Homo sapiens: one gene and its partners. The protein of the gene in region 2 interacts with the protein of the main gene of each other region in a pairwise test. Each region holds a gene or a part of one and is shown on either strand. Other genes may lie near its edges.

Region 1 (6,682 bases), on a different chromosome or scaffold from region 2:
TTCATTAATCAATGAGGGGACCAGGTAGATGTTATAACCAGTTCAAAAGAGAACCCTAAGAACAGACACATTTATAGATCAGGAATATTCAAATGAATGTGTAAATGGAGGCAATGCTGATTTTTCCACATGGGGAAAGGGAAGTCAGTTGAACGTCTACAGACAGGATATACTGTGCATGTCTACAGACAGAAATTATTTGGTCTTGCTATCACTCACTTATAACTTACAGAGTTGTAAGATACCCCAAGGACAGTGAAAGGCTAGAATCAGACGACTGGAAAGGTATGTTGTATGTGGATAATGCCTCGTTTTCCACTAAAGCATAATTTTTTCCTATACACCTGGTCTTGTTTTTTCCTGTCTTTCTGGATATTTAATTCCCACCTGTTCTTCAGTGACCTTTAATATCTGCAGAAATGAGTTTTATCTCTGTCTTTTTCATGTAGTCCTTGCTGTCTAATTTACTTGCCATTTACTTGTATGGTACAGTATTATTAACTATCTTTTTAGCATTTTTAAAATCTACCTAAATATATCATAAGATAATTTTATAGTCAGAAATTATATCAAATGTTAGACACTCAGTGATTATCTGTTGTTTGGAAAGAATATCTTCTCCCTCCTTTTTACTGTGACCTAAGTACCTTAAACCTCTACCACTCCCTCCAACAACGTCAACAATGTCATGTCCAGCACCATCATGTCTTGTTTAGCCTGGAATTAGTGAATTCTTAATATTGGGTTCCCCAAAAGAAAATCAGTATATTCAACTAAAAACAAAGCAAAAACCTTGGATAATAACCTGCTATGTATGCATAGCTTGAGTTCAACATATGTCTTAAAGAGGTTTTGATAGTTCAAATAGATGTGATTTTTACCTAATAAAGCTATTTTCAATTTCTATCCATTTTCAACAGGTATTTACTCATGTTATCAGTTGTGCAAAGTGGGGAGGGATATTTGACTTGGGAATGAGGGATGTTTTCTCCTTCCAAAATACATGTTCTACAGAAAACCAAACACTGCATGTTATCATTTATAAGTGGGAGCTAAAAATTGGGTACACATGGACATAAAGATGGGACCAGTAGACACTGGAGACTGCAACAGTGGAAAGAGTGGGAGGGGGGCATAGGCTGAAAAATGAACTAGTGGGTACTGTGGTCACTACCTGGGTGATGGGTTCAATCCTGCCTCGAATCTCAGCATTGTGCAATATACCCTTGTAACAAACCTGCACATGTGCCCCCTTGAATCTAAAATAAAAGTTAAAAAAAAACACCCCCTACATTAACAAAATCACGAAGCCATAATTCCCAGAAAAACAATTATATTCAGCTCATTAATTATGTGTTTATTTTCTTTATTGGTATTTACAAGTATATTCCATGTCCAAAAATTATTGTTTTTTAAGTGTTTTGTTAGTTTTAGCTAAATATTTTAGTTATCAGTAAATAATGTTTATTTTTTACAAGCACTAACTACAAAACTCCACTTCTTTAGATGAGAGATGCTGACAAACATTATATAAAACCAATTACAAAATGTGAAAGTAGCACACAGACGAATACACACATACTGCCACCAACGATTGTGAGATCATATGAGTGGAATGAATGGGAATTAAGAAGAAAAGCTATAAAATTGGTTTGTAACAATACTTTCTAGAATTATTTATATGTTGGGGAATTTTAATCTATTGTTACTCATAGAGTTGGTAAATTAAATTATTTATATAAAATAATGAGTTTTATACAGAGTTCTTTGCTAACAAAAATATAATTTATAACTTGCTAGGTTTACATTATAAGATTGTCTTCTAATTTTAAGCATATATAGAACAATGATAATATCTATATATCTATCTGTCTATCATCAGTTTTAAAACTTGGTGCTAGTATTTAAAGCACTCCCAACTTCCTTTAATCACTTAAGGTATACCATTCTTTTTTTTGTTTGTTTTTTGGACCTTTTCTATTAAAGCATAGATATTTTCCCCTCAACAACATATTATCTCCAGACCCTGGGCACTCTCATCCTTCTGATTCTCAGTCACCTTAATTACAATATAGATACCTACCCTTAAAGCCTGTCTTTGAAACTCTCATCCCTGTCCAACTGAGTGAAATTACCCCCACCATCCCCTCTTTATGGTATCTTGTCATTTTAAACAACAAATATTTATAGTATGGAAAAAATAAAATATTTTGTCTGTAGCCCCTTTTTAGTATATTTTATCCATCTCTTTAACTGAAATCAGGTGTGGAAATAAACAATGCCTACCCAAATGAGAACAAAGCAAGGCTATTTATTTAGAGCTTACTGTAGCAAGGGAGTCAGACACTGTCACTTGTGTTTGGTAGACTCAAAGCATGCAGGGGAGTGGGAAAGCTTTATAGTCAGAAAAGGGGGAAGCCTTCAGATGTTCTCTGATTGTAGTTTGTTAACATGAGAAAGCTGGAAGCAGGCTAACTAGAAGCAGGGCATTTTATGAGATTGGTTTGGTGAGCATATCTAGGTTTCTCTGGTTGGTCCTGAGTTGGGGCAGAAGGGGCCAAAAAATGGAGAAGTTGGCTAAGTCTTCAACATTCTGGGTCAACTGCTACAGCTATAGAGGTTGAGACTGGCTTCCCTGACTGGTTGATGTACAGGCTGCAAGTCAAAGAGTTCTATTGTCATATATGGTCTAGCCTTTGTCCATTTGTATATTCAGTCCATTTGTATATTCAGTCCCACTGACCACATTATTTCCTTTGCTACTCACTCTGGTGGCAGCTTTTCAGTTCCCTGGCATGAGGAAGGATCAGTTTCCCCATATATCTTCCAGATCATTGTTCCATTAGTATTCCTTCCTATCAGTTACTCTCCTGTAGTTCATGAAATGCCCAACCCCCATATTATTTTCTATTATCTACTAAACTCACTTGAGTTCATTAGATTTATTGGGTAACATATATATCCCACTACTTTGTTCTAGCAAGTGATACTGTTACATTAAAAATATTTCAGTACCTCCTTGTAAGTGGTACCTCCTTGTAAGTGGTGTAACAGAAGTGAAATGAAAATTCTACTAAATTAACATAGGTGATATTTTATGTTGCTTTTGAGATACAAATAGGCAAAGAGGAGGAGGGAAGTGATGGCTGGATAGGATAGGAGAGATAGAGGTGACAGCATAGGTATGGACTGGAAATGTTAAGAGAATGGGGTATTCAGGGGTCTGAACTTCATACTGACTGAGCCCTCTCTTCCCATTCCTCAATCTCCACTTAATTCTGACTCTCACCTTGGGCCTTATTATTCCCTAGAACTGTATTATATTGAATGCCAGCTCCCCAAGTGTCACCTACCTAACCTGTGGATAAGACAAAGCTGAGTTTATTGCTTACAGCCATAAGGGAAAACACCACCTCAACAGTGCTTTGGCAGTGTCTCAGAAGAGGAACTGCAAAGTCAGAATTGATTGAGAATTTGAAGTTTGCTAAGGCAGGTCTTCCAATGACTGAGGTGGACTGGGGGTAGGATGGAGGTTTGAATCGGATTGGGTAAGGATCATGAAAAAGCAGTCCAGCATTGGTGGGAATAGCAAGAAGATTTTTTGAGGCAAGGGATGCAGACTCTTAGGACTGAAACTGTGTTTTGATGCTTACTACTGAAGAGTTGACACATCTCTCAGGTACTACTGAAATGAGCAATCAAGTTATTTGCTTAGGCAAGAGTCTCTTGGAATGGTAAAATCATGCTAATGAAGACAATGGAATAGTAAAGTCATATTAATGTGGACAATAACCTGGGTATTGGGGAGTAGTTTCGGTTCTCAGTCACCTGCAGTATCTCAAACTCTGAAATGTTTCCTCTAATTCCAGGTGTCACCTTCTTCACTCACATGCTATAATGCCTTTTGAGTTTTTTCTTGGCTTTTACTATAAGTGCAGCAACCTTATTCTTCTTTTTATAAGCTCCTCCTTGCTTCCCAGCCTGAGTAATCTGTTTAACCTCATGTTTACTAATAATCTATAAAGGGAGTAAGCAAAATGTAGAATACTGTAAAATACAAAATGGAAAGCATCAGACTCTTTTATGTTAAAAATCTAGGGTGAAGTCCATTTTTAAAAGATAATACTGTATAAATCTTATATTTTTGTTAAAAGAAAACAAGTATAGTGGAAAAATCCAAGTTATATGAATCTCAAAGTATAATAATGAAGGAATTAGATTATATTAATAAATAACTGGTTGAGTTCACTGTAATTTTGAATCTGTATGTTTTTTGAGGTCAATTTTCAACATTTTACATATTTTTCTACGTCTTGGTAAGGGATATTTAATTTTCTATTATGTTCTAGATTTTCCAATGTTTTATAGAAAAAATGCTATGTTATGGAATTAATTTCTTGTGGATTGAAGACAAAAATAGGCAGATATTAACTGGTATCTGATAATATTTTATGTTATTTGTTCTTTAGAGAAATGTTAATTCCTGTATTCTCTTTCTCTTTAGGCTAATTTGCGCCAGAAAGTTACTCACTCAGTACAAACTGATCTTAGTCACTTGAGAAGAGAAAATTGTTCCCAAGTGTACCCTCCAAAGGACACTAGCACCCAGTCCATGAGGGAAGACAGCACTGGGGTGCCCAGGCCTCAGATTTACTTGGCTGGTCTTCGTGGAGGAAAGAGCGAAATCACCGATGAGGTCAAGGTGAACTTAACTAGAGATGTGGATGAAACCTAATTACAGACAACGTTTTAAAATAGATGCTACTCAATTATGAACAATAGCAAGTACTTAAAGGTATATTAACATCTATACAAATTAATTTTGTAGGGGTGGCACATTCATTGGTTGTGTGACTGTTTATTGGGTTCCCATATTTTATCAAACTGTTTTCTGTAACACATTTTTCATTCTGTTGAAATTGAAAAATAAAACTGTCCATTTATCTTTTATTTGTTAGAAAAATTTGTCAGCATTAAGATTGAAATTATGATAACATTTAGATATAAATATAAGATTATTACTGGAATAGAAGTCTATTTCTAAACCATATTTAATGTTAAACGTTACAAACTTAAAACCTAATCAATATTTTCAGCTCTGTTAGCTATTAAATGTTAACATGGATTAAACTGATATGTAACAAAACCTTACTAATTTGGAACAATTGGAGCAAAGGTCCACATGATGTTTTTTTCTTTCTTTTTTTTTTTTTTTTTTTTTTGAGACAGGGTTTTGCTCTGTCACCTAGGCTGGAATGTAGTGGTACAATCACAGCTCACTGCAGCCTCGACCTCCTGGGCTAAAGCAATCCTACCTTAGCCTCCTGAGTAGCTGGGACCACAGGCGTGTGTTACCACACCTGACTAATTTTTAAAACAATTTTCTGTAGAGACAGAGTTTCACCATATTCCCCTGGCGGGTCTGGAACTCCTGGGCTCAAGAGATCCTTTTGCCTCAGCCTCCCAAAGTGATGGGATTATAGGCATAAGCCACCATGCCCACCTCACATGGTGTTTTTCAAAATGTAGAAATTTGACATAAAATTTGTATTTCTGGCCCTTCAAAAAAAGAAGAAATCAGAATATCTGCTAACACTTGGCCAGCATTCCTGCAAGTAGTAGCTTTGCCCATTCATAGGGCAGGCACTTTCAATCCTCCATTGCCTAATCTAGTTCCTGCTGCCTTATGGGCCTCCCACGTCACTGCTTTGCCTTATTTGCCTGACTGCATAGGCAGTTGTGTTTAAAGCTCCCATGAATTGCTGGTAGCTATATTTTATAACTGTGGTTTTATTACTGTCTTACATACTTCTAATACCAATTCATGGATAATAAAGCTTCTAGGAAGGGCTGTTTATCTTGCTTTAGTAGCTAGGAGGTCATTTGTATTTGGCGTATTTTTTTCTGCTCAGGTGACCTTTTACTAAGGCATTTGTATAATTTGCTTTCTGTGTAGCTTAAATGTTTTTGTTTATTTGTTTTTGAGATGGAGTCTTGCTCTGTTGCCCAGGCTGGAGTGCAGTGGCGCGATCTCGGCTCACTGCAATCTCTGCCTCCTGGGTTCAAGTGATTCTCCTGCCTCAGCCTCCCAAGTAGCTGGGATTACAGGTGTGCACTACCACGCCTGGCCAATTTTTGTATTTTTAGTAGAGATGGGGTTTCACCATGTTGGCCAGGCTTGTCTTGAACTCCTGACCTCAAGTGATCTGCCCACCTTGGCCTCCCAAAGTGCTGGGATTACAGGTGTGAGCCACCGCACCTGGCTACTTAAATGTGATTTATACTATGAATATGCTTTCAAATCCATTTTCTGCATATAAACTTCAAACAAACCTACTTCTAATTTTTTGTGATTTTCATACCTGTAGTTTACAAATGATGTTTAAGATAGACTGGCTGGCTGTTAAGGCAGGGCCTGGAGGAGTGGGGTGATACTAAAATTTACAAATTCAGGAATGTCATTTTATCTGTTCAATTAACCCTTATTTGATTCTGCAAGATTCCTAAACACAGAAAAGAATGGCTGTAACCTGAAATTTGGGCTTATCAAGTTAAGGCTTGGAAGTAGAATGGCCAAGTGAATAAAAATACCAAATCCAATTTAAAAACCCAATCCTAATATCAGACAGTCACCTGGTAAGTACAACAGAATAAAGGGAGCTACATCCAATGGAAAACTCAT
Region 2 (8,688 bases):
TATAACCTGTTGTAACTGAACATGGCCTTTGGGGATTTCTCCCCCACCTCATCTACACACCACATACAATGTTCTCCTTGAAAGAAATATGAGTGGGTTTTTTTCTTTTTTGTAAATTGGAATTTTATAAATTGGTGCCCTTGATAACTGCCCATCTTTCTCACCACCACATTCAGTTTTGAAATAGATGTGGTTTTTTTTGTTTTGTTTTTTGTTTTTGTTTTTTTTTTTTGAGACAGAGTCTCACTCTAGAGTCGCCCAGGCTGGAGTGCAGTGGCGCAATCTTGTTTCACTGCAAGCTCCGCCTCCTGGGTTCACGCCATTCTCTTGCCTCAGCCTCCGGAGTAGCTGGGACTGCAGGCGCTTGCCACCACGCCCAGCTAATTTTTTATATTTGTAGTAGAGACAGGGTTTCACCGTGTTAACCAGGATGGTCTCGTTCTCCTGACCTCGTGATCTGCCTGCCTCGGCCTCCCAAAGTGCTGGGATTACAGGCGTGAGCCACCGCGCCCGGCCAATAGATGCATTTTTTAATCCCTGTTTTACTGGTGAGGAACCTGAGTAAAACTGGTGTTTTACTGGTGAGCAACCTCAAATTGCTTAGGCAATTTGAGTAATGTGCTGTATTAGTTTTATAGTGCCGTGTAACAGATTACCACTAACCTGGTAATTTAAAGCTATGCAGATTTATTACCTCACAACGGTTTCTGTGGGTCATGAGTATGGGCACAACTTAGTTGGGTCCTCTGCCTAGGTTCTTAACAATGCTGCAATTAAAGTTCAGCTGGGCTGCATTCCTTTTTTTTTTTTTTTTATACTTTAAGTTCTAGGGTACATGTGCACAACGTGCAGGTTTGTTACATATGTATACATGGCTGCATTATTATCTGGAGCTCAAGGTCCTCTTCCAAATTCACATGGTCATTGGCAGAAGTTAGTTTCTTACATCTATGTGATACATGTCCCATTTACTTACTAGCTGTTGGCTGGAGACTGCTTTCTGCTCCAGATGTTTTTGCCACTTGATTGGCCCGCCCACAACATAGCAATTTATTTCTTCATGGCCAGCAGAAGAATCTCCAACCTTATGTGGGGTGGGGGATGAGGGAGCAGGATAAGACCTTCTTTTAAAGGGCTTACCTGATTAGATCAAGCACACCCAGGATAGTCTCCCTTTTTATTAACTCAAAGTCAACTGATTAGGAACCTTAGTTACATATGAAGTCTGTTTTGCCATAAAATGTAATATAATCTCAGGATTTATATCCTGTCATATTCACAGGTCCTCCCTACACTCAAGGAAAGAAGATAATAAAAGTTGCGTACACTAGGGGGTGAGAATCACGGGGAGCATCTTAGAATTCTGCCTATTACACATGCACAGTAACCAAGCAGGTAATTGACAGAGCATTGCTCTCTAGGCAAAGCATTCGTTAAAATCATTAAGCTGTACTACCTCTCAAAAACAGGAAACATTAACTGAAAAAAATTTTTTAATTTATTCCAAATACTTGATTTTGTGGATAATTTCACAGTTAGTACCATTAAAGTAAGTGTAGAATATGTCAGTACCTAAAAATGGACATATGTAAATAATGTTATGAAACAAAAATGAGACTATAAAACCTGGATATGAATATATAATATAAAATATTTAAGTTTCTGGATCTTTTAAAAACTTACCTGTCATTTGAAATATATATATATATCTAGTAATTTCTGACCTTTTAGTAAAAGATAGTTTACCATACTAAGTAGCAGGTGATAAATGTTAAATGTTTGTACTGGCAGTAAGTACTATAGAAGTTCAGAGTAGGAGAGATTAATGTAGACTAGAGATTCCCTTTAGATGTAAAATAAATTAATTTTTTTGTGAAGTAGCTTATTAGAAATTTTGCCTAGCGCTGGTTCATATTCTATTGCTTGTCATCTGTTTGCTGTACAGGATTGCCTGTGTTCTTTGAAGAAGAGCAAGTCTTCTCTTCATTCTCATTTAAATAGAAATCCTTTAGCATTACTACAGTCATTCAATTAAAATCTTAATCACTGTAATACCCTTCATTCTTTTATCATAGGATAAGAAACATGATGTTGCTGTGTATCTCTGTTAGTTGATACTTTTTACCCATCAGTCCATCATTTGCAACTATTGCGAAATAAATTGGTGGGATTTTTCTCCCCTTATACTAGGGATCTCATTTATTCTCATTCATTTGTTTTATGTCTGTGGAGTAGCTAGCTATTTCAATTGTTTTAAATTACTTTTTATTTAAAAATAGGCATGGTAGACTGAAAGTACCCCCCCCCCCAAATATGACCATGTCTTAATTCCCGAATGTCACGTTATGTGTCACAAGGGACTTTGTAATGCAAGAGACTTTGCAGATGTGATTAAGGCTCTCGAGAGGGGGAAATTAACTGTATTACCCAGGTAGGCCCAATCAAATCCAAGCGGTCCTTCTAAGAAGGAGCAGAAGGAGTCAGAGGAGAAGGCAGTGTGTGATGATGATGGAAGCAGGAGTTGGAGTGACACACCGTGAAGATGGAGGAAGGGCTATAAAAGTGAGAAATACAGGTGGCCACTAGAAGCTAAAAAAGGCAAGGAAGCTGATTCTGTCTTCAGAGCCAAAGGAACTAGCCCTCCCAACGTCTTGACTTCAGCCCAGTGAAACAGATTTCTAATTTCTGACTTCCAGAATTGTAAGATAATACATTTGTGTTATTTTAAGCCACAAAGTTTGTGCTAAGTTGTTATAGCCACAGTAGGAAACTAATACAGTAGTTGTAATATATTTGTTTACTGAAAAACTCATATTTCTCTTGCAGCATTGAGCAAATAAGCTTCCCCATAGCATGCAAATAATTGTGTGTGAAAAGTGAGACTATTTCAGAGGATATGGATAGAAGATTAAGAATTTTTGCTTGTTTGGTTAATATAAGTGTTCAATACACAGAAGATTTTTTGGATTTGTTTGAATAGAAATAGAAAATGGCAAGAAAGTACAGTGTTAACATAAGTGGGCCTTGAATGAAAGCCTGAGGGAAGAGGAAGTGTTAGTGGAAGCTGTCAGATATTTCACTTGTTTAGGTCTGCTTAGTTTCTTTCTCTTACCTTCTCTTTAGCTTTCACTAAAGACTGAATCTGTATATCTAGAGTAAATAGGCCTTGGAAAACAAGGCCTCTCCACAAGTGGATTTGTTCCTTTCAGATTTGTGTTAAAGGTTATACTCTGGCTGCTCAAAAGAAATAACAGCTGCTAGGAATAACACATTTTCAAACAACCCATCTTGCTAGTTAAGTAATTGGACTTGGAGGCCCTTTTTTGCTGTGCTCCAGATCTAAATTGAAGGGAAGTTTTTATGTTATAAAGGGCTACCCTTGGAAGAGTCTGATCGTTAGCTGGATTCATTTTCAGAAATGCACCTCCTTCAGTTTAGTTTGATTAAGTTTCTTTCTTACACATTAATATCTTTCATTATTTTGTTAATTACAAGTGTCTACCTTCATGGGCAAGTTGCTCATTTGAAACACATGCAACATTTACATTAAACTATAATATTTCTGTTTGGACAACGTGGAATCTAGATACACCATGTTTCTGAAATACACTGTGAAGAAAAGCTGCTTAGTTATACTAAGTCAGCGATGTTCAGAGATGAGCTAAGTATAACAACTCAACCTTCCCAGGCCAAGCTCAACAGTAAGGCAGATGGAGGTGTTCCATGATATAGACCAATAGTTTTCAAAGTGTGGTCCCAGATCAGCAACATGAGCAAATTCTCTGACTCTGCTTCCGACAGAAAGATTTGGAAACTCTGGGGATGAAGCTATAGTTTCATGTTTGACAAGCACCCTTCAGTTTATTCTGCTACACATTAAAGTTTGAGAATCATTGATACAGATTAAGTTTTGTTCTCGCTGACAGAACAGACTTACAGCTAAAATGTTGGAAAATCTGACTCTATTGACATGTCAGAGATAATTTGCAACTGCTTCCTTTCTGCCCGAGTTCTATCAGACTAATCACTTGAATAGATTGAAAAATCACTTATGTTTGTAGATGAAATTAAGTATTTTTTGTATTTAAATAACGCTTTTGATTAGAATCCTATTTTGTTGAAAGTGGTTGGTTTTATCTGTGTTCTGTAAAGATAGTTATAAAACCTCATCAAGATTCTACCAGTAAATCACATTCTATTCAGTATAAGGTGAAATGTTTTACATCAAGTCTCATGCTGTGTAATGGCCAAAGAGTATTTAAAGTGACTGAATGGATTCCTTGGCTCAGTATTCAAAAGTAAACATTTTACGATGTTCATGTTTAAGGCTTTCACCTCTTCTCAAAATTGACTTTATGTAACTCTCTTTATTTGCAACTCCAGAAATCACCAAAGATCATGCTTAAGCAACATGTAGCAGCAACTTATTTTTCTTATCTTTATATAGATTTACTGAAGGGTAGGTTGTTTGAAAATGGATGTAGCTTTGGGGCACAAGTCTGTTTAGCTGTGTGAATGCTATAATTTAATATTTAAGACAAAACAACAGCTTTGGCTTGGTAAATATATATCACTGATTTCTGAAAAACCAAACGAAAGAACTTGTTTTGTTGTGTTCTTATTTGACAGGTGATCTTGTGGTTCTTTCTAGGTATCCAGTAGAAAAAGCACTCTCCAGTGTTCATCTGTGGAACTGGATGGTTCCTACTTGAGCATAGCCAGACCACAGACCTACTATCAAACCAAGCAAAGACCTAAGTCTGCAGTCCAGGATTCAGCTTCAGAATCCCTTATAGCATTTAGGAATAATTCTTTGAAACCAGTAACCCTTCATCATCCCAAAGATGATCTAGATAAGATACCATCAGAGACCACAACATGTAATTGTGAATCTCCAGGGAGAAAACCTGCAGTCCCAACAGAGAAAATGCCACAAGAAGAATTGCACATGAAGGAATGTCCACATCTTAAGCCTACTCCTAGTCAATGCTGTGGTCATAGACTTGCTGCAGATCGTGTTCATGACAGCCATCCTACAAACATGACCCCTCAACATCCTAAGACACATCCAGAATCATGCAGTTATTGTCGGCTTTCTTGGGCATCTCTGGTGCATGGTGGTGGGGCACTGCAACCCATTGAAACTTTGAAAAAGCAGATCTCAGAAGATAGAAAGCAGCAACTGATGCTTCAGAAAATGGAACTGGAAATTGAAAAGGAGCGCCTTCAGCATCTGCTGGCCCAGCAGGAGACAAAGCTTCTTCTAAAACAGCAGCAGCTTCACCAGTCTCGACTGGATTACAATTGGTGAGTACTGCCTGTTCTTTTTTTTTTTTTTTTGAGACGAAATCTCGCCCTGTTGCCCAGGCTGGAGTGTAGTGGCACAATCTCAGCTCACTGCAGCCTCCGCCTCCCGAGTTCAAGCAGTTCTCTGCCTCAGCCTCCCGAGTAGCTGGGATTACAGGCGCCCGCCACCATGCCCGGCTAATTTTTGTATTTTTAGTAGAGACGGGGTTTCACTGTCTTGGCCAGGCTGGTCTTGAACTCCTGATCTCATGATCCACCCGCCTTGACCTCCCAAAGTGTTGAGATTACAGGCATGAGCTACCGCGCCTGCCCAAGTCCTGCCTGTTCTTTTAGCAATGTCTGTAGTTTGGAGAGCACAGTGTAAAATTGTTGTAATACTATAGCAGATGGGTAGAACCAGAGGTTTTTCTGGATCTTGGCTTACTCGAGATGCATATCAGTTATGTCTACTAAGTAAATTCCCCTTTATTCTTTGGAAGACTTCAAAGATTACCTTGTCTTCCAAATTGATAGCTTAGAATATCTATTTCTGAGCAGTCTGGTGTAATTTTTGCTGGGTTCCAAAGACATTTTAAAATGATCTTGCCATTATGCAGAATCCTTTGCTGTTTGATATCATTGTGGACAATATTAGGCATTAAGTAAAAGCTTGAGATTTCGGGGTGTGGAATTAGATTGTAAAGCAGTGAGATTAGCTGTCATCATTCCGAATTTATGTCTACCCACCATAATATAAAATATAACAAGTGATGGGAGTCTTCTAAATTCAACCCTTTCTGGCCATGAAGCATGACCTGTTGAATGATGAATTCTCATACACCTATCCACATGTAGGCTGTTCTTCCCTTAACAATTCTTCCTAAGAACAGTGCTTCAAAAGATAAATTGCTGTTTTATTATTATATAATGTTTCTTTACTCCACATCCTTGTTGGCATTTGGTATTCTCATTAATTTTTATTTTACCTCTTCTAATACGTGTATAGTGACATTTCATCGCAGTCTTAATTTGCATTTCACTAATGGCTAGTAATGTTGAACATCTTTTTGTGTGTGTGCACGTTTGCCCTCCTATCTTCTTCAGTAAATTCTCTCTTCAGTATTGCCCATATTCTAATTGGATCATTTGGGTGTTTTGCTGTTTGGAGAGTTCTTCATATCTTCTAGATATATGTCTTTTGTCAGATATGTGAATAGCAAATATTTTCTCCCAGTCTGTAACTTGTCTTTTCTTTTTTATCTTTAATTTTTTTTTCTTTTGGTAGAGACAGGCTCTCACTCTGTTGCCCAGGCTGGTCTTGAACTTAAATAATTATCCCACCTCAGCCTCCCAAAGTGCTGGAATTACAGCCACTGCTGGAATTTGAGCCACTGCTCCTGACTCTGCCTTTTTAGTTGCTTAATGAGATCTTTCATAGAGCAGAAATTTTTAATTTTAATGAAGTCCAATTTATCTTTTTTTTCTGTTACGGATTATATAAAGTTTTATCATAGGTGTTGAATTTTGTCAAATACCTTTTATGAATTTTGTCAAATATCTTTTATGATCATGTGATTTGTCTTATTTGCCCTGTTAATATGGTGAATTACATAGATTTTTAAATATTAAACCAGCCTTGCATCCCTGAAATAAACCCCACTTGGTCATAATGTATGATTTTTTAAAATGTTACTGAATTCCATTTACTAATATTTTGTTGAGGATATTTGCATCAGTTTTTTTTTTTTTTTTTGAGACAGAGTCTTGCTCTGTCACCCAGGCTGGAGTGCAGTGGCATGATCTTAGCCCACTACAACCTCCACCTACTGGGTTCAAGGGATTCTCATGCCTCAGCCTCCCAAGTAGCTGGGATTACAGGCGTGAGCCACTGCATCTGGCCTATTTACATTAGTTTTGATGAGGGATATTGTTCTGTTGTTTTCCTTTTTCTTTTTTCCCCTGTGTCCTTGTCTTGTTTCGGTATCAAGGTAATGCAGGCCTCATAAAATGAGTTGGGAGATGTTCGCTCTGCTTCTGCTTTCTGGAAGAGATTGTGTAGAATTGGTGTTAATTCTTCTTTAAATGTTTAGTAGAATTCTCCAGTGAAGCCATCTGGACCTGGAAATTTATTTTTTGAGACTTTTTAAATTCCAAGTTTAATTTCCTTAATACTTACAAGGCTATTCAAATTATCTATTGGATAATCTGCCTTGCCACAGGTTTGTTCATTTTAATTATCTTTCAAATAACTGGGTTTTTGTTTCATTTAGTTTTTGTTATTGTTTTTCTGTTTTCAATTTCATTGATTTCTGCTCTTTATTATTTTCTTCCTTCTGCTTGCTTTAAATTTACTTTGCTCTTCTTTTTTCCTAATTTGTTAAGGTGGAAGCATATTGGTTTGAGACTTTTTCACTTTTCTACTGGAAGCATTTAGTGCTCTAAATTCCCTTCTCGGCACTGATTCAGCTATGTCCCACAAATTTTGATATGTTGCATTTTCATGTTTATCCAATTCAGTGTGTTTTTGGGGTATCTTTTGAAACTTCCTATTTGACCCATGGGTTATTTAGAAGTGTTATATTTAGTTTCCAAGTTCTTAAAGATTTTCCTGTTTTCTGTTTCTGATTTCTAGTTTGATACCACTGTGCACACATAACACACTGTATGTTTTTCATTCTTTCAGACTTATTGAAGTTTGTTTAAGGACCCTAGGGCATGCTCTATCTTGATATATGTTCCATGATGTTTGAAAAGAATACGTATTCTGCTGTTGGGTGGTGTGTTCTGTAAATTGTATCCTATTATTTGACAGTATTGTTGAGTTCTTCTATATTCTTGCTGATTTTCTACCTACTTCTATCAATTATTGACAGAGGCGTTTTGAAATCTCCAAGTACAATTGTGATATATCTATTTTTCCTATTAGTTCTATTAGTATTTGTTTTAAATATTTATACTTCTGTTCTTTGCTGCTTATGCATTAAGTTTGCTATGTCTTCTTGGTAGATCGACCATCTTTTCACTATGTAATGTCTTTCTCTGTCCCCAGTAATTTTTTTTTTTTTTTTGAGACAGAGTCTCTGTCGCTGAGGTTGGAGTGCAGTGGCACCATGTTGGCTCACTGCAACCTCCGTCTCCTGGGTTCAAGCAATTCTCCTGCCTCAGCCTCCCGAATAGCTGGGATTACAGGTGCCCACCACCATGCCCGGCTAGTTTTTATATATGTATTTTTTAGTAGAGATGGGGTTTTACCATGTTGGCCAGGCTGGTCTCGAACTGCTAACCTCAGGTGATCCACCTACCTCGTAAATTTTTTATCTAAAGTCTCCTTTACCTGATGCTAATATAGCCATTCTTACTTTCATTTTATTAAGGTTTTCAAGATGTGTGTTCTTCCATCCT
Region 3 (8,688 bases), on a different chromosome or scaffold from region 2:
GTTCGCTCCTCTAAGAAAAAATAAGAAAACTTCCTTTCATTCTATTTCACAGTTTAAGAAAAAAATTGGCAAATTCATGATTTAAGGGTGTACTAGAAAAAAAAAACGGGTCCATTAGTACTTAAAAATTTGTGTCATAGAAGACATGTATATTTACCTGGTTCATATTTATGAAACAAACATTATCTATTAAATGCCAGACTCTAGGCACACACCTCATCAATAATGGGATGGTGTTGACTAGCCTACACAGTAATTTACTGCAAACTTTCACATAATCTATAAACATATGTCTGGATAAACACAAAGTCTAGTTAGCAGCGCCATGTTTCGCTCAGGAACGCTGAAATGCACTTTACCTGTCGATGCACTGAGCCGCTAGGCAGGCAGTTGTCAGAATCTCTTTGATGTGAGTCAGCCAGTTAGAGGCCTCCAATTTACTGAGCCATCGGTCCATGTTATGTGTTTGGTCATTACAAGCTTCCACAAGTTTGATTAAGCTCTCCTGAAGAATGTGATACCTTTTAAAAGTAAGAAAGTAAAAAATAACAAACCCAGAAAATAGAAAGATAAAGAAACCAAACCAAAGATTCAGCCTCCAACATATCTAAGAGCAAAAGTAGTTCAAAATACTATAAAAATATTTACCCTGCTATAATTTGAGGATTAAAGGTTGAAAAACTAATATTTAAACATTGTTGCAAAGGCTTAAAATGCCTGCCATGGTAACGTATTCCTTACCTGAACAGATTAAACCCAGTTCACATACCTGGATTATCTGACTATAGGAGAGGCCAGAGCCCTGCGTTTCATGACAGGTCAGGAGACACAGCACCACTTACATTTGCAATCCTGTTCCCACCGATCTAACACTAGAGACCCAGTGCCATCAGCAGCCTTACCCAACCCAGCTTGGATCCCACTGTTTTCTAGCTACAGCTCCCATTCACCCACCTAGAGACACTTATAAATCACTCTTTTACAGTACAAACAAGAGACAATAGGTGGAGGAAACTGTGCGAAAATAGGTCGATATGGGGAGAAATTAAATCTCTAAAGTCTTTGACTTAGGAAAATATAAGTATATGTAGCAAATCTGTTCAGTGTAGCAACTGCTGATCTACCTGCAGAGGAGCTGGCCTTGTGGTGATGAGACCACAGGGTTGGCTTAGAGAAAGAATGCTAGTGAAAGGGACTCCTGCAGGCCTCCAAGAGCACAGCTTTCGCCTATCAAACACAAAGGCTGGCTGTTCAAAAAGAAAGATAAAACTAACAAACCTTTAGCTGAAGGTTCTTTCACTAAAAACAGAGAGAAAAACAATGCAAATGCATACAATCAGAAATAAAGATGAGATATTACAACTGATATCACAGAAATACAAGGGATCATAAGAGACTACTGTGAACAATTACACATTAACAAATTGACTGGATAATCTAGAAGAAATGGATAAATTCCTAGAAGCATACAACCTACCAAGACTGAGTCATGAAGAAAGAAAATATGAACAGACCAATAATGAGTAAGGAGATTAAAAAGACCTCCCATCAAAGAAAAGCCCTGGTCCTGATGGCCTCACGCAGTACCTGATTTTAAAATATGCTACAAAGCTAAAGTAATCAAAACAGCTTGGCACTGGCATAAAAACAGACACATTGACTAATGGAACAGAATAAAACCCAGAAATAAATCCATGCATTTATGGTAAATTGATGTTTGAAAAAGTTGCCGAGAACATACAATGGGGAAAGGAGCTTCTCCCATGAGTGGTGGTGGAAAAACTGGGTATGCACATGCAGAAGAAACTCAACCCTTACCTCACACCATACTCAAAAATCAACTCAAAGTAGATTAAAGACTTAAACATAAGGCCTGAAACTGTAAAAATCATTAGAGGAAAACATAAGGAAAAAGCTTCTTGACATTGGTCTGGGAAAAGTTATTTTGGATATGACCTCAAAAGCAGAGGCAACAAAAGCAAAAATAGACAAATGAGACTGAACAAACTAACAAGTTTTGCACAGCAAAACAATCAACAGAGTAAAGAGACAACCTATGGAATGGGAGAAAACATTTGTGAACACCACACTGGATAAGGGGTTAATATCCAAAATATGTAAGAAACTCAACTCAACAGCAAGAAAACACAAAACCTGATTAAAGAATGGGCAAGACCTGAACAGACATTTCTCAAAAGAAGACATATAAATGGCCAATAGGTATTTGAAAAAAAAAATGCTCTGCATCACTCATCAACAGAGAAATGAAATTCAAAACCACAATGAGATATCACCTCACCCCTGTTAGAATGGCTATTACTAAAAAGACAAGATTTAACAACTGTTGTTGAGAATATGGACAAAAGGGAACCCCTGTACAATGCTGGTGGGAATGTAAATTAGTATGGCCACTGTGGAAAACAGTATGGAGGCTCCTCAAAACATTAAAGATGAAACTGCAATAAGATCCAGTAATCCCACTTCTGGGTAAATATTTTGAATATCGGAAACGAAATCAGGATCTCAAAGAGGTATCTGCATTCCCACGTTCACTGCAGCACTATTCACAATAGTCAAGATATGGATTCAACCTAAATGCACGTCAATGGATGAATGGATTAAGAAAATGTGGTACAATACACAATAAAATACTATTCAGCCTTAAAAAAGAGGGTAGGCCAGGCACAGTGGCTCATGCCTGTAATTTCAACACTTTGAGGGGCCGAGGCAGGAGGATCACTTGAGGTCAGGAGTTCGAGACCAGCCTGACCAACATGGCAAAACCTGGTCTCTGCTAAAAATACAAAAATTAGCCAGGCGTGGTAGCAGGCACCTGTAGTCCCAGCTACTTGGGAAGCTGAGACAGGAGAATCACTTGAACCTGGGAGGCAGAGATTGCAGTGAGCTGGGATCGTGCCACTGCACTCCAGCCTGGCTGACAGAGCAAGACTCCATCCCAAAAAAATAAAATAAAAATAAAAAAGAGGGGAAGCCTGTCATTTGCAATAGCACAGATGAACCTGGATGACATCATGCTATATGAAATAAGTCAGGCACCCATGCACAGAAAGATAAACACTGCATGAACTCACTTATATGTGGAATCTAAACAAGTTAAACTCATAGAAACAGAGAGTAGAATGGTGGTTGCCAGAGGAAGAGAAAGTAGCAGGAGGGGTCGGGGTAGGAGGGACACAGATATGGGGACATGTTGATCAAAGGTAACAACAAAGTTTCACTTAGGAGGAATTAGTTCTGTAGGTCTATTGTACAGCATGGTAACTGTAGTTAAAACTAATATATTGTATGCTTGAAAACTGCTAAGAGAATAGATATTAAATGTTCTCACCATCCAAAAAAATGATAACTATGCGACGTGATAGGTTAATTCACTTAATCAGTTCACAATGTATATGTATATCAAAATAGCACAGTGTACATCACAAATACATGTAATTTTTATTTGTCAATCAAACCTTAATAGAGCTGACCAAAAAAAAATGAGAAGATGGCTAGCCCATCATTGACCCTAAATTAATGCAGAAGTTAATTTGAGCACTTGTGATTTTCAAATGGCTAAGGCCTTACCCACTATAATTAGCTTCTAATAAGAGTCTGTACTATCTTTGGAATCTTTTACCTCTCAATGGACTTATGAATTCGCCTCCACTGAGGATAATGAGCTTCTTGTTCAAAGCCACCTCCTTTGGCTCTAGTTTGCTGAGCCACGTTCAGGGATCGGGTGTCAATGATGTAGCCACGCTTTCCAGCCCTGAGGGTAGCATTTATCAGCTTCTCGTCCTCCTTGCACCTCCTCCCGTTTGTACCAGTGAGTGGCTGACCACTTCGCATAATTACCTAGAAGCATAATAAAGCTGAAAATTCAACAGCAGTTGCTTTTAAAGTTTCTGAAAACAGAAAGAAATTAGCTAGATTAAGAGTATCTCAAAAACAATTGTGTGACACTCTGCAGATGGATTTGATCCATAAACAAAGAAATATTTGCATGTATTGACAATAGTTAATAACTATAAAAGATAAGCCTTAAGCTTTTACACAATTTCTCTGTCTCAAAATACTGTCACATAATAAATTATATCTCCTCTTTAAGATCAAATATTGCAATTCATTTAGTGTGTGAATCAAATACCTGTAGACCTGGACCTGTAATAAAGACAATAATGGCCTATGAGCCAGTAAACCTTGACTTCAACTAAACATACATAGAGTTGGCAGGTTTTAACAACAATTATAAGAAGTAAAGGCACCAGTGGCAAAATTTAAAAGTTCAAACACTGTTCTCATTGTTTGGGAAATCATTTTCACTACCTCAGAAGCTGACTGTCTATTATGTATTCTCCAGTGGCCTCTACCATCCTTTTCAGTATTCAAGGATTTAACTACTTGTTTCTAAAAACTACCCCACCAACTATACATCTGGAAATGTTTGCTTTTGAAACTTTTCTCTAGAAATCAATGTCTATTATACTAATCTCTTCCCTGGCGAATGGTTTAGAGTTCTTTCAAGACGCCACCATTACAAGGTAGTTATCTTAACTCCTTGTTTAATCCTGACTCCAGTGTTTACTAGAGTTGTGACTAAATGACATGAGCATCACTCTTTTCACCTTTGAAAATAAATACGTCTGCTCCACCTTTCACGTGTAAAGTTGTTAAGAAAAATTCAAGTATTTTACCATTATTCTGAACAGAGAAATTTCTCATTTTTCTACCAGAAGAATGTTGCTGTAAGCATCAAATAAACACTAGTTTCCTTTGTATAGTGTCCTGGAGATAAAGCTATCAGGGCTTTTATACGGCTGAGCAGGATCATGGAAAGAATTCAGCATCACATCCTCACCACAGAAAACACCCTACTCCTGATTCCCTAAAGCTTACATGAAGGAAGCCCTTGTGGTGGAGACCTGGACAATCATTTCAGTGAACAGACAGAGAGCAAAAGGGAACATTTCTACGAAAAGATCCCCAACCCAAGCCTTTCAGTACATCAAGCAGTAGTGCTGTGCACTTACCATCCCATTTTTTTTGTGGTAATAGCTTAGTACTGGGAAGCGCCCTCCATGTCGAAATGTAGCTACCTTCCGAAGAGCTTCATCATCGATGGATTTGGGCACTGTGACAATTGGTGGGTAAGAGGGACAGACAGCAAATTCCTTATTGACATAGCTTAGCCTCCATTCACTGGTCTGAAAAACACAAAATACTTCAAAGCTAAGCAACTATCTCAATGTCGCAAAATAATCTGAGAAATTTTAAAAGACCTTAGAGGTCAACTTTCACTGATGAAGAAGCCATTTCTCAGGAATTTCACAGGTGGATCTCTAGCTTATATGTAAGTAGCTGCAGAGAAAAGGAGCTCTATGGTTCAGGGCCAGCTTCCTGCATTGCTAGGTATCACCAGTTCCCAGAAAGTGCTTTCTCACACTGAGCAAAACTTGTTGCTCTGTAGCTCCCTCTATTGGTTTTTACTGTACTTTCAGACAACACCGTACAAGTTCCCTATTTTACACGGTATCCCATCAAATGTTTGAAAGACAGCTGATCCTCCTTAGTGTTCTATTCTCCAAGTTAAATATATTAAGCACATCCACAATTATCACGGCCAACATCATCCTACTTCTTCCTTTTCTGGGTCCCATTTAGTTTGTTAATGATCCTCTTAAAGCACAAGTAAGACTGTACGACTCCAGATAATGCATCCCCAGAACAAATGAGAACACAGCTACTATCTATATCAAACCCTTTGTTTATTTTAAAAAAGGTAAAAAATGTACTAAGATTGGTAACACCTTTCTTAAAACAGTACCAACTCAATACTAAGGAAGGTTAAGCTTAGGAGTCAATGAAATAATTTCAAACTGAGTAAGGACTAGAAGTATACAATATAAAACTATCAAATGACAACTTATTTTAAACATCAGAATTAAAAACAGCTTGAACACTGTCAAAAGGTTTTACAGTAAAAAAAAAAAATCAAATTATATGTAAATTTCAATATGTTCTGTATATCTGAGTTGGCCTAACCATGGGTTACAATAGCAGGAAGATAAAGCTAAAAAGTATGTTAGACGTACTAACAGACAAGATTATTACTTTTAAAAAATGCTTTTATAAGATACAGTATCACATTTTTAATTAAATTTTTTCACTTTTCAAAGTTATTTATGTTACCAGTTTAAAAACATAGTTTCTAGGCTGGGCACAGTGGTTCACACCTATCATCCCGGCACTTTGGGAGGCCAAGGCAGGCAAATTGCTTGAGTTCAGGAGTTCAAGACCAGCCAGGGCAACATGGCCAAACCCCATATCCACTAAAAATGCAAAAATTAGCCAGGCACAGTGGCACACACTTGTATTTCCAGCTACTTAGGATGCTGAGGTGAAAGAATCACGGGAGCCCAGGAAGTCGAGGCCACAGTGAGCTGTGACAGCGCCACTGCACTCCAGCCTGGGCAACTGGAGTGAGATTGTTTCAAAAAATAATTAATTAATTAATTTAAAAAAAACACAGTTTCTAAAGATTTATTATTTTTAAAAAAATGTAGTTATCTGTTCCTTGCTAGCCCATCCCAATTTGCTTTCCCCAAAGGCAATCATTTTCAACATTTTTAGCTTTTTCAGTGTTTACCTTTACATTTCTAAACAACATGATAATACTGTTATTTCTTGAACTTTCACTATGATATATTATTATTGATTTCCTACTCTGGAGAATGACAGGGCTCTCCATTGATCTGCAATGCCGCTTCTGTTGGTCCAAATGTACTGTGCTCTCCATCCCGTCGCACTTGTCCACTTTAGTAACTCCTATAGCTTTTAAAATAAGTTTGGTATCTAGTAGGCCAAGTGTCCTCCTCTCACCTTTTTGTTCTTCAAAGAGTAACGTGGCTCCTCTTGGTCTTTTGGTCTTCCATGCAACTTTTATCAAATTCAATATAAAAACCAACTGGGGTTTTTATTAAGATTGTATTGACTTTATAAATCGGAGGGAATGACTTACATCTTTAGAATATTCAGTCTCTCTATCCATGAGTATATTGTCTTTTCCATTTGTTTAAGCTTTCAAAATTTTTTCCATAAATTTTTATAATTCTCTCAATAAAGGTCTTACTATCTTTTCTTAGATATATTCCTAGAAACCCAATAATCTTTGTTGCATTTTAACTGCATCTCTTCAAAATTGTGTTTGGTGTACAGAAATGCCTATGATCTCAAGATTCTTTCCTTTTCCTATGTAGACAAGCATATAATCAATAAATATTGACAATTTTGCTACCTTCATTTCAATCCCTATACCCTGTATTTTTCCTTCTTGTCTTATTGAGCTGACTAGAAGTAGTCACAATGGACATCCTTGCCTCATTCTTGAACTTAGAGAGAATGATACAAGATTTGCTTTTTTTATGTTTTTGGTTTTGGTACCCATCCTTTATCAGATTAAATAAATTTCCTTCAAATCCAACTCTAAGAGCTTTTATCATAAATAGATATTGATCAAACTTTTTTCCTCTGTTAATCTAACACCATGCAGGTCATTTGTCTTTTAACTTTGTGGTATTTTCTTTGCTTTATTGTTCAGTAGCTGAACAACAACATGTCTAAAGATTTTTTTATTATCTTGTATGGTATTTGCTGGGATACCTCAGCTTAAGGGTTCAATAACTTCTACTGATTCTGGAGAATTATCAACCATTATGCATTTGAATATTGTCTTTCTTCTATCATCACCTTTTTTTTTTTTTTGTCTTCCTCTTTTTTTTTTTTTTTTTTTTTGGAGACAGGGTCTTGCTCTCTCACCCAGGCTGGAGTGCAGCGGCATTATCACTGCTCACTGCAAACTCAACTTTCTGGGCTCAAGCCATTCTCCCACCTCAGACCCCCAGGTAACTGGGACCAAAGACACACATTATCACACCTAGCTAAATTTTTTCATAGAGATGGGGTTTCACCATGTTGCCTAGGCTGGTCTCAAACTCTCCTGAGCTCAAGTGACCTGCCTGCCTCAGCCTCCTTAAGTGCTAGGATTATAGGTGTGAGCCACCATAACCAGCCTCTATCATCTTTTATCCTAAACTCCCATGTAATAAATATTGGATCTTCTTCCTTTATTAAGCATGCATGTGTCTAACCTCTCTGTTTTTCCATCTTCCTTCTCTGTTCCATATTCTGAGTAATTATTTCGGATCTATATTTCAAATCACTTATTTTCTCCTAAGCTGTTTCTAATCAGCTACTTAACATTTGCATTAGATTATTCTTTTATCTTCTTTTTAGTCAACTTTGAGACAAAACTTATAAAAAATAAACTGAATCCATTTTGACTACACAATTTCATGAGTCTTGACAGTTGTATACACCTGTGTAACACCCAATACTAGGAAATCACTAACCTGCTTTCAGTCACTTTTGGTGTCATATCTAAAAAATCTCTGTCTAACTGAAGGTCATAAAGATTTTCTCCTGTGCTTTCTTAAAGAGGTTTGATAGTTTTAGTTCTCATGTTTAGTTGCATAATACATTTTAGTTAATTTTTGTGGATGATGTGAGGTAAGGGTCTAGGTTTATCTTTTTTACATATGGATATCCAACTGTTCCAATACTATTGGTTGAAAAAGCTATCCTTTCCCAATTGAATTGTATTGGTACTTTTGTCAAAAATCAACTGAG

Evidence for each region.
Region 1: the proteins of KIAA1328 (region 2) and CFAP206 interact in binary tests that used the Homo sapiens proteins (3 or more experiments, as listed by UniProt).
Region 3: the proteins of KIAA1328 (region 2) and MTMR9 interact in binary tests that used the Homo sapiens proteins (3 or more experiments, as listed by UniProt).

Annotation. Positions count from the first base shown.
Region 1 is NC_000006.12:87,459,516-87,466,197, forward strand, and holds the end of CFAP206 (cilia- and flagella-associated protein 206), read left to right. Parts: intron 1-1,506; coding exon 1,507-1,650; intron 1,651-4,504; coding exon 4,505-4,735; 3' UTR 4,736-4,950; downstream 4,951-6,682. UniProt on the Homo sapiens protein: Essential for sperm motility and is involved in the regulation of the beating frequency of motile cilia on the epithelial cells of the respiratory tract. Required for the establishment of radial spokes in sperm flagella.
Region 2 is NC_000018.10:37,062,239-37,070,926, forward strand, and holds part of KIAA1328 (protein hinderin), read left to right. Parts: intron 1-4,629; exon of another isoform or gene 4,630-4,651; coding exon 4,652-5,307; intron 5,308-8,688. UniProt on the Homo sapiens protein: Competes with SMC1 for binding to SMC3. May affect the availability of SMC3 to engage in the formation of multimeric protein complexes.
Region 3 is NC_000008.11:11,301,360-11,310,047, reverse strand, and holds part of MTMR9 (myotubularin-related protein 9), read right to left. Parts: intron 5,208-8,688; coding exon 5,034-5,207; intron 3,859-5,033; coding exon 3,641-3,858; intron 522-3,640; coding exon 360-521; intron 1-359. UniProt on the Homo sapiens protein: Acts as an adapter for myotubularin-related phosphatases. Increases lipid phosphatase MTMR6 catalytic activity, specifically towards phosphatidylinositol 3,5-bisphosphate and MTMR6 binding affinity for phosphorylated phosphatidylinositols.